3 separate regions of the Homo sapiens genome follow, and regions 2 and 3 are each linked to region 1. The links come from fine-mapping of genetic effects on gene expression. A gene starts in region 1. Each other region holds a variant in brackets. All regions are shown on one strand. Distances are between the middles of the regions. Region 1 holds the start of MATK (megakaryocyte-associated tyrosine kinase). Region 2 overlaps ZFR2 (zinc finger RNA binding protein 2). Region 3 overlaps ZFR2 (zinc finger RNA binding protein 2).

Evidence for each region. PIP is the estimated chance that this variant, and not a neighbour inherited with it, causes the effect.
Region 2: its variant is fine-mapped to the expression of MATK in whole blood (INTERVAL, PIP 0.97).
Region 3: its variant is fine-mapped to the expression of MATK in whole blood (TOPMed, PIP 0.96).

The regions. Positions count from the first base shown.
Region 1 is chr19:3,784,921-3,787,758 of GRCh38, forward strand. MATK (megakaryocyte-associated tyrosine kinase) reads right to left here and starts at 1,461. Exons shown (of 14, transcript NM_139355.3): 1 at 1,249-1,461; 2 at 144-366. The coding sequence starts at 215. RefSeq lists enhancers at 1-889, 251-545 and silencers at 251-545, 2,420-2,618.
Region 2 is chr19:3,831,242-3,833,741 of GRCh38, forward strand. It overlaps ZFR2 (zinc finger RNA binding protein 2), which reads right to left. Exons shown (of 19, transcript NM_015174.2): 3 at 2,423-2,500; 4 at 419-637; 5 at 62-315. Among named protein-coding and RNA genes, the nearest start is that of ZFR2, 37 kb to the right of the region's middle. RefSeq lists an enhancer at 12-601. The variant T/G (reference allele first, on the strand shown) is at 1,399.
Region 3 is chr19:3,821,027-3,823,526 of GRCh38, forward strand. It overlaps ZFR2 (zinc finger RNA binding protein 2), which reads right to left. Exons shown (of 19, transcript NM_015174.2): 8 at 2,220-2,377; 9 at 1,055-1,174; 10 at 314-453. Among named protein-coding and RNA genes, the nearest start is that of MATK, 36 kb to the left of the region's middle. RefSeq lists an enhancer at 774-933. The variant C/G (reference allele first, on the strand shown) is at 984.

The DNA of each region.
Region 1 (2,838 bases):
GGGACCCACGGTCCAGTTCCTACCACTTCCAGCCCAGGTCAGGTGGGGGCGATGGCTGGGCAGGCAGAGAGAGCCTCCCCAGAGGCATCCTGGATGGGACCCAGAACTGGCTCCCCAAGCCCCTGTGGGGAAGTGATCTTTACCCGGGGAAGTTCCTCAGCAGAATCACAGCCGTGAAATGCCCGCCAGGAAACCAGAGAGCCTCGCCCCGCCATCGCCCCCAGAGGGAAACTGAGGCAGGTGAGAGGCACACTGAGCAAGTGGTCACAGTCGGGGACGCTGGGAATGGCCTGCCACAGGCCAGTCGGCTGGCACAGGAGGTAGGGAGCTGGGTGCCACTGGACCGAGCCTGGTTCTTCCTGTTTTCTGGTTGGTAGGCAGGGGCAGGGTGGGGAAATAGGGATGAGTCAAGGTCATTCCCAAGAATCTCTGACCGTGGGGTGGAGCTGGGGGCAGGGGCGGGTCCTGTAGCCCTGCTGGGCTCCTCCGGCCACCCGCTGAGCCTCTCTGATCCCCCCCCAAACCCAGGACAGACACACAAAGTCACTCATTGCTGCAGGGGTGGGGGAGCCTCCCTGCCTCCCCCATCTCCCCGACCGCTAGTGGCTGGGAAGTGGGCGGTGCTGGGGGGTGAGTCTCGGCCCCTCCAAGATGCGCCTCCCATGAAATCCTCCAGTCCCACGTGTACTCACACGCATACGGATGCATGCACACGCACAGAAACACACAGGGCTCGGACACAGCTGCGCGCAGACAAGCAAAGGACCACGTCCACGTGGAAACAGGTGTGCGCACACGTCCCCGCGCATCCGCGCGCACAAGCGCTCCACACCTGGGAACGTGCGCACCTGTCCCCCGCCCCCGGCACACACACAGCCGCCCCACACTGGAACACCTGGGCGCCAGCGCCGGGCCACTCGGGCACGCAGGGCGCTACGCAGGGCCGCGCACACGCTTTTCGGCCACACGCGCACAGCCCTCCACGTGGACGCGCGGGTACACACGCCCGGGGCTCGTAGCCGCGCACACCCGCACCCAGGAAACCCCAGCCACCACCACGCGGGGTCCGATCGCCTCTGAGCACCCTCCGCCCCAGCCGCGCACCCGCTGCGCGCCCGGGACGCGCACACTCGCGCACACACCGGCCCTTCCTGCGCACGTCCCGGGCCCACCCCCGCCTAGAGCCCTCGGGGTTTCCCCCCACCCCGGCCTCGGGGTCTCTCCACGTCTCCCCGCCGACGTGCTCACCTGCTCAGGGGGCGCCCCCGAGCCGCGCCCCGCGCCCGCCCCCAGGAGGGCCTCCGCGAGCCGGCTGCACACCCCGAGGCGGTCCCGGCTGCACAACTTGGAGCGAGTTGCTCCGTTTCCTCATTTTGGGGGCGAAGAAGGGTCGGGGAGTGGGGGAAAGCGGGAGGCGCCGCGGCCTGGGAGGCCCCCGCGGGTCCTAGCGCCGGCCGCACTGCGGTCTCCTCCGCGCGCCGCCGCCGCCGCCGGCCCCTCCCCGCCCCGCCTCCGCGGCCCCCGGCGCCTCCCGCGCGCCCCGGGCGGGGTCCCGGGGCGCACGCGGGCTCCACGCCTGGCCCTGACCTGGCCCTGTCGGGCGTGCACCCCCCACCCACCCTGGGAAGCGGGGTTCTTGGAGCGTGGAACGGGCGCCGCCAGTGCGCGCGGCGGGGACCGGGGGTGAGGGAGAGTGAGCTGCCCGTCCGGGGAGATAAGCAAGGCGCCAAGCCCGGACTCCCAGAGGACACTTCGTACTCTGCAATTCCAACTCCCTCAGTGTCGCCCATTTGAGCACCCACCGTCTCAGAGGGCTATTGGTGGTTGACAAAAAAAAAGCTTTCAAAATGTCAGCCGCTATCAATATCATTATCATAATCATCAACATTAAGGGAAAATTGGAGTAACAGAATCATCGGGAACTGTAATCATCCGGATGCAAACTTCTTAGAGCTGCCCTCCTTGGAGGGTAAAAGGGGGGCCTGGGAGTTGGAGGGACCTGGCTCTGCCCGTAGGTAGGAGGTACCCCTTTTCCAGCCGGGATTTCCTCCCCCATATGGAGGGTGGGGGCCCCACCCGCTTTCACCTCACAGAACAGTTTGATCTCACTTGGTCTTGGTGGACAGGGCCCTGGCCCCCAGCGATGGCTTTGTGGTTGGGGTGACCAAAACGCCCAATCTGCTTTCACCCAATGCAGGCCTTTATCTTTATTTTTATTCATTTATTTTTTGAGACAGGGTCTCACTCTATCCCCTGGGCTGGAGTGCAGTGGCGTGATCATAGCTCACTACAGCCTTGACCACCTGGGCTCAAGCCAGCCTCCCGCCTCAGCCTCCCGTGTAGCTGGGACCACAGGGTAATTTTTTTTTTCCCAAATTTTCATAGAGCCATAGAAGGGGTAGCCTCAGGAGGGGGTGAGTTCCCTGTCCTGGGAGGAATCCAAGAATTGGCCACTTTGCCTTTTTTTTTTTTTGAGATGGAGTCTTGCTCTGTTACCCGGGCTGGAGTGCAGTGGCGCTATCTTGGCTCACTGCAACCTCCACCTCCCGGGTTCAAGCAATTCTCCTTCCTCACCCTCCTGAGTAGCTGGGATTACAGGTGCGTGCCACCACGCCCTGCTAACTTTTGTATTTTTATTTTTATTTTTTTGAGATGAAGTCTCACTTTGTTGCCCAGGCTGGTCTTGGACTCCTGGGATCAAGCGATCCTCCCATTTCGGCCTCCCAAAGTGCTGGGATTACAGGCGTGAGCCACCACGCCTTGCACCTTATCATCCTTTCTAAGGGATGAGTCCTCTGAAACAAAGATGAAGTTCATCTTAGGAGGGCAATGAACCGA
Region 2 (2,500 bases), 46 kb after region 1:
GGTTCAGACGTTGGGGACAGAGAGGTCCCTGGGGCCTGCCCATGGCAGGAGGGCGACTGACCTGGGGGCCAGCGCAGCTGATCTTGCAGATGTCGCAGTAGTGAAGCTGGAGCTGCCTGGGCCCCGCCTTGGGTCTCGGCAGCTTGCTGGGAAGCGGTGGCTTCGAGTCGGCCCTGGGGCTGCTTCCTGAGCCTGCAGGCGCGGGCGGCGGGGGCAGCTGCTGCGGGGGTCCCGGGGGAGGCGGGGGCTGCGCTGGAGGATAGAAAGGGCTGGCAGCGGAGTACACCGACGCGTCATAGTTCGGGTAGCTTGGTGCTGAGCAGCAGAGAAAACAATGAGTCGGGGGGAGATGCTGATTCCACTGAGTTGAAGTGGGGACCGACGGGCAGACCACCTGGGCAAGGAACGCTGGTCTTACCCGTGTAGGCGGTGCAGGTGGGGTTGTAGGAGGGCGGGGGGTAGGAGGTCACGATGGAAGCTGACGACTCGGGCTGGACGCCTGTCGCCGTGGGGTAGGTGTATCCCGAGGACAAGGTGCTCGCTGGCTGTCCGGACTCCACTATGGGCGCCTGCTGTGGGGGCTGAGCGTGGCTGTGACTGCCATGGGGGCTGGGCTGCCCGCAGGCTTCTTGGGTCCCTAGGGGACAGGGACAGGCCCTCTGCAGAGCCAACCCCCACCCCACTGTCCCTCACCTGCAGATGGGCCCTGGACTCAACTGGCTGGAACACGCTAGATGCTTAAGCCAGGACCAGAGGCCAGAGCCTTGGGCCAGGTGCTGGCAGCGACTCGCAGGTTACCTTGTGCCCACCTCTCCTTTCCAGAGCCCGGCTTCTCTCTCCTGCCATGGGGGAGGAGGGCTGTGGGTGCCCTAGACAAGCTCCTCTGCATCTCCAGCTCCATCACCCACAGAGCTCACCTCCTGCCACCCCGGGAAAGCTTCCTTGGAAAAAATGTTAGCTGCATTTTCAGTCCTCACTTTCCTTCATTCATAGGCCCACACCTGGCAGAGATCCCAGGGCCCATCTGAGCAGCCAGCTCTGAGGCTCACCTGCAAATCTAGGATGTTTTTATTATCATTATTATTATTTTTTTTTTTTTGAGTCGGAGTCTTGCTTTGTCACCAGGTTGGAATGCAGTGGCATGATCTCGGCTCACTGCAACCTCCACCTTCCAGGTTCAAGTGATTCTCCTGCCTCAGCCTCCCGAATAGCTGGGATTACAAGCATGCGCCACCCTGCCCGGCTAATTTTTCTATTTTTAGTAGAGATGGGGTTTCACCATGTTGGCCAGGATGGTCTCGATCGCTTGACCTTGTGATCCACCCGCCTCTGCCTCGCAAAGTGCTGGGATTACAGGCGTGAGCTGCTGCACCCGGCCTTTATTTTGTTTTTTTTTTT[T/G]ATTTTTTATTTTTTAGAGACAGGGTCTTGCTCTGCTGCCCAGGCTGGAGTGCAGTGGTGCGATCACAGCTCACTGCAGCTCAGTTCCTGGGCTCAGGCGAACCTCCTACCTCAGCCTCCTGGGTAGCTGGGACTACAGGTGCACACCACCATGCCTGGCTAATTTTTTTGCATTTTTTGTAGAGACGGGGGTCTTACTATGTTGCCCAGGCTGGTCTCGAACTCCTAGGTTCAAGCAATTCTCCCACCTCGGGCCTCCCAAAGTGTTGGGATTACAGGCGTGAGCCACCGTGCCCGGCCTCTAGGATGGTTAACATGTAACTTTCACGGGGTGCAGTGGCTCACGCCTGTAATCCCAGCACTTTGGGAGGCCGAGGCAGGTGGATCACCTGATGTCAGGAGTTCAAGACCAGCCTGGCTAACATAGTGAAACCCCGTTTCTACTAAAAATAGAAAAAAATTAGCCAGGCATGGTGGCGCGTGCCTGCAGTCCCAGCTACTTGGGAGGCTGAGGCAGGAGGATTGTTTGAACCTGGGAGGCAGAGGGTGCAGTGAGCTGAGATCGCACCACTGCACTCCAGCCTGGGCAACAGAGTGAGACTCCGTCTCAAAAAAAAAAAAAAAAAAGAAAAGAAAAGAAAAGATGTAACTTTCAGGCCGGGCATGGTGGCTCACGCCTGTAATCGCAGCACTTTGGGAGGCCAAGGCGGGCGGATCACGAGGTCAGGAGATGGAGACCATCCTGGCTAATACTGTGAAACCCCGTCTCTACTAAAAATACAAAAAATTAGCCGGGCGTGGTTGCAGGCACTTGTAGTCCCAGCTACTCGGGAGGCTGAGGCAGGAGAATGGCTTTAACCTGGGAGGCGAAGCTTGCAGTGAGCCGAGATCGCACCACTGCACTCCAGCCTGGGCAACAGAGCGAGACTCTGTCTAAAAAAAAAAAAAAGTAAGTTTCCCAAGGTTTCCCTGTGCTGCGGGGAGCGTCTCCTCGTTCCCAGCCCCGACCCTGCAGATGGCTCACCTGGCTGGCCGGAGTCTGCGGCTGTCATGCGCCCAGACTGGAGGGCAGCAGACTGGAAGTACGGCCTGTCCTCATAGC
Region 3 (2,500 bases), 36 kb after region 1:
GTCGGGGGACACAGGTCACAAGGCACCTCTGCAGCCGTGTGGTCCAGCGAGTTGGCCGGCAGTGTCCCTGCGTCTACGGAGGCCCTGGAGCCCACGTGTCAGGTCCGCACGCCACTGTGCCCTTGCCCGTCTGCTCTGGAACCCTCTCACGCTCCCACACCAGGACGTGCCCACTGCCCGGGCACCCGTCTCCCCCCACTGCTCGAGAGCTCACACGGAGGAGCTCCGTAATCTGCAGCAGTGGGCGTCTAGGTTCCACGCTGGACCTGCCCTCCCTCACCAGGCCCCCTTGCCAAGACCCGCAGCCGGGCACCTCCTCTCCGCGTGCCAGCGCCGCAGCTGCTCCAGCCGCTCCTCCGCCAGGTGCCGCTGCTTCCTCATGCGCTCCTCCAGGACCTTCCGAGCCCGGCTGCTGGGCTCCGTGGCAATGGGAAGGTCCGGGTTCACTTTCTTCTGGAAAGGACAGGCAAGGCTCTGAGAGTAGGGACCTTGCTTTAGACAGGGATGCCAGGAGGATCTTGGGGTGCAGGGAGAGGCCCAGAGACTAGAACTGTTGGGCTGAAAAATCTCCCAAAGCCTTTTTTTTTTTTTTTTTTTTTTTTTCGAGACAGAGTCTTGCTCTTGTCTCCCAGGCTGGAGTGCAATGGTGTGACCTCGGCTCACTGCAACCTCCGCCTCCCGGGTTCAAGCGATTCTCCTGCCTCAGCCTCCCGAGTAGCTGGGATTACAGGTGCGCACCACCACACCTGGCTAATTTTTGTATTTTTAGTAAAGATTTCACTATGTTGGCCAGGCTGGTCTCGAACTCCTGACCTCAAATGATCCACCCAACTTGGCCTCCCAAAGTGCTGGGATGATAGACGTGAGACACCGCGCCCGGCCGAAGATACACTTTTGAGACGAGGACCAAGACGTTGAAAACCCAGAAAATCACCCCTCCCTCTTAAGTTCGTCGGATCACACGCGCGGAAGAGGCCCGACCA[C/G]AGGCCTCCCAGCGCCCGCCGGGCCCTAGCACAGCCCGGACGGGTGTCGGAGCTCCCCCTGCTGGACGCACCCGGTACTGCAGCCGGTGCCGCCGCCCCCTCACGTGCAGGTCCTTCGCGTTAAGGTCGTTGAAACTGCACTCGCACAGCTTGCAGTGGAAGCGAAGCACTCGCCCTTCGTCGCTGAACACCTGAGACACAGAACAGCCGCACGCGCACCAGGCACGAGGCGGGGTGGGATGTGAGATGCTACCGCTGCCAGGTCGCGGCGGAGCCTTCCTCCTTGCTGCTCATTTTATTTATGTATGTCTTTTTAGAGACAGCGTCTTGCTGTGTCACCCAAGCTGGAGTGGAGTACAGTGGCTCGGTCTTGGCTCACTGCAGCCTCAAACTCCTGGGCTCAAGCGATCCTCCCACCTCAGCCTCCCGAGTAGCTGGGACCACAGGCACACGCCACCATGGGAGGCTGGAGGATTGCTTGAGCCCAAGAGTTCAAGACCAGCCTGGTCAACATAGCGAGACCCCCATCTCTACAAAAAAAATAAAAAATACAAAAATTAGCTGGGAGTGGTGGCTCATGCCTGTAGTCCCAGCTACTCAGGAGACTGAGGTGGGAGGATTGATTGAGCCCAGAAGTTTGAGGTTGCAGTGAGCCATGATGGCACCACTGTGCTCCAGCCTCGGTGACACAGCAAGACCCTTTCTCTTAAAAGAATCCCAGGCCTACAGGCAAGGCAGAGGAAACCCAGCCCTGCCTCTTTGGCACGCACAAGGCCAACCGGGGTCTGAACTGCCGCTGGCCTGGGAGCTGGCAGACCTGGCCCAGGAGCTCGGCTCCACTGCTCACCAGCCTGACCTTGGCAGGTCCCAGGGTCCCGCAGGCCCAGGAAAGGGGCTAGACAGAAGGGCTTCCAACCTCCCGGGGAGCTTTCTACTGCCCAGATCCCTTCCACCTTCCAGACAGACGGCTCCGCAGGGTCCCCTGTTGGGAATGCCTCGGCCTGTCTCTGGCCCTCACGGGGCCATATTCATTTCCTGCTGATACCAAAATCCGGCACCCAAAGTGTCAAGCGGGTCTGCACGGGGTTTTGGTCCATGGAGGTCTGGCCTGTGCAGCTCAGGAACGGGGATGGGTCTGTAAATCTCGCTGGGAGAAGCCGGGTGAGGTCTCGAAGCCTGATCCATGGGAAGGTCCTTCCCTGACCGGGGCACCAGGACTTGACAGCCTCGACTTACCTCCTCCACATATTCCGGGCCCACCGGCTGCGCATCAGAGCAGCCCGCGGGAGCTTCCTTTGAGCCTCCTTGGGTAGGTGCTCCGGGACCCTCTAATTTAGGTTGGGCTGGTTTCCCCCACTGGGGTCTGCAGCCTGCTGCCTGTGGCTCAGGAGGCCCTGAGGGGAAAAACCATGTCACTTATACCCTGTTCCAGGAGAAAGCACTGCAGCTGCAGACCCGCCAGGCGGCATGGGGTGGAGAGCCACCCAGACTGCAGGCTGTGCCATCCCCCTCCCTCC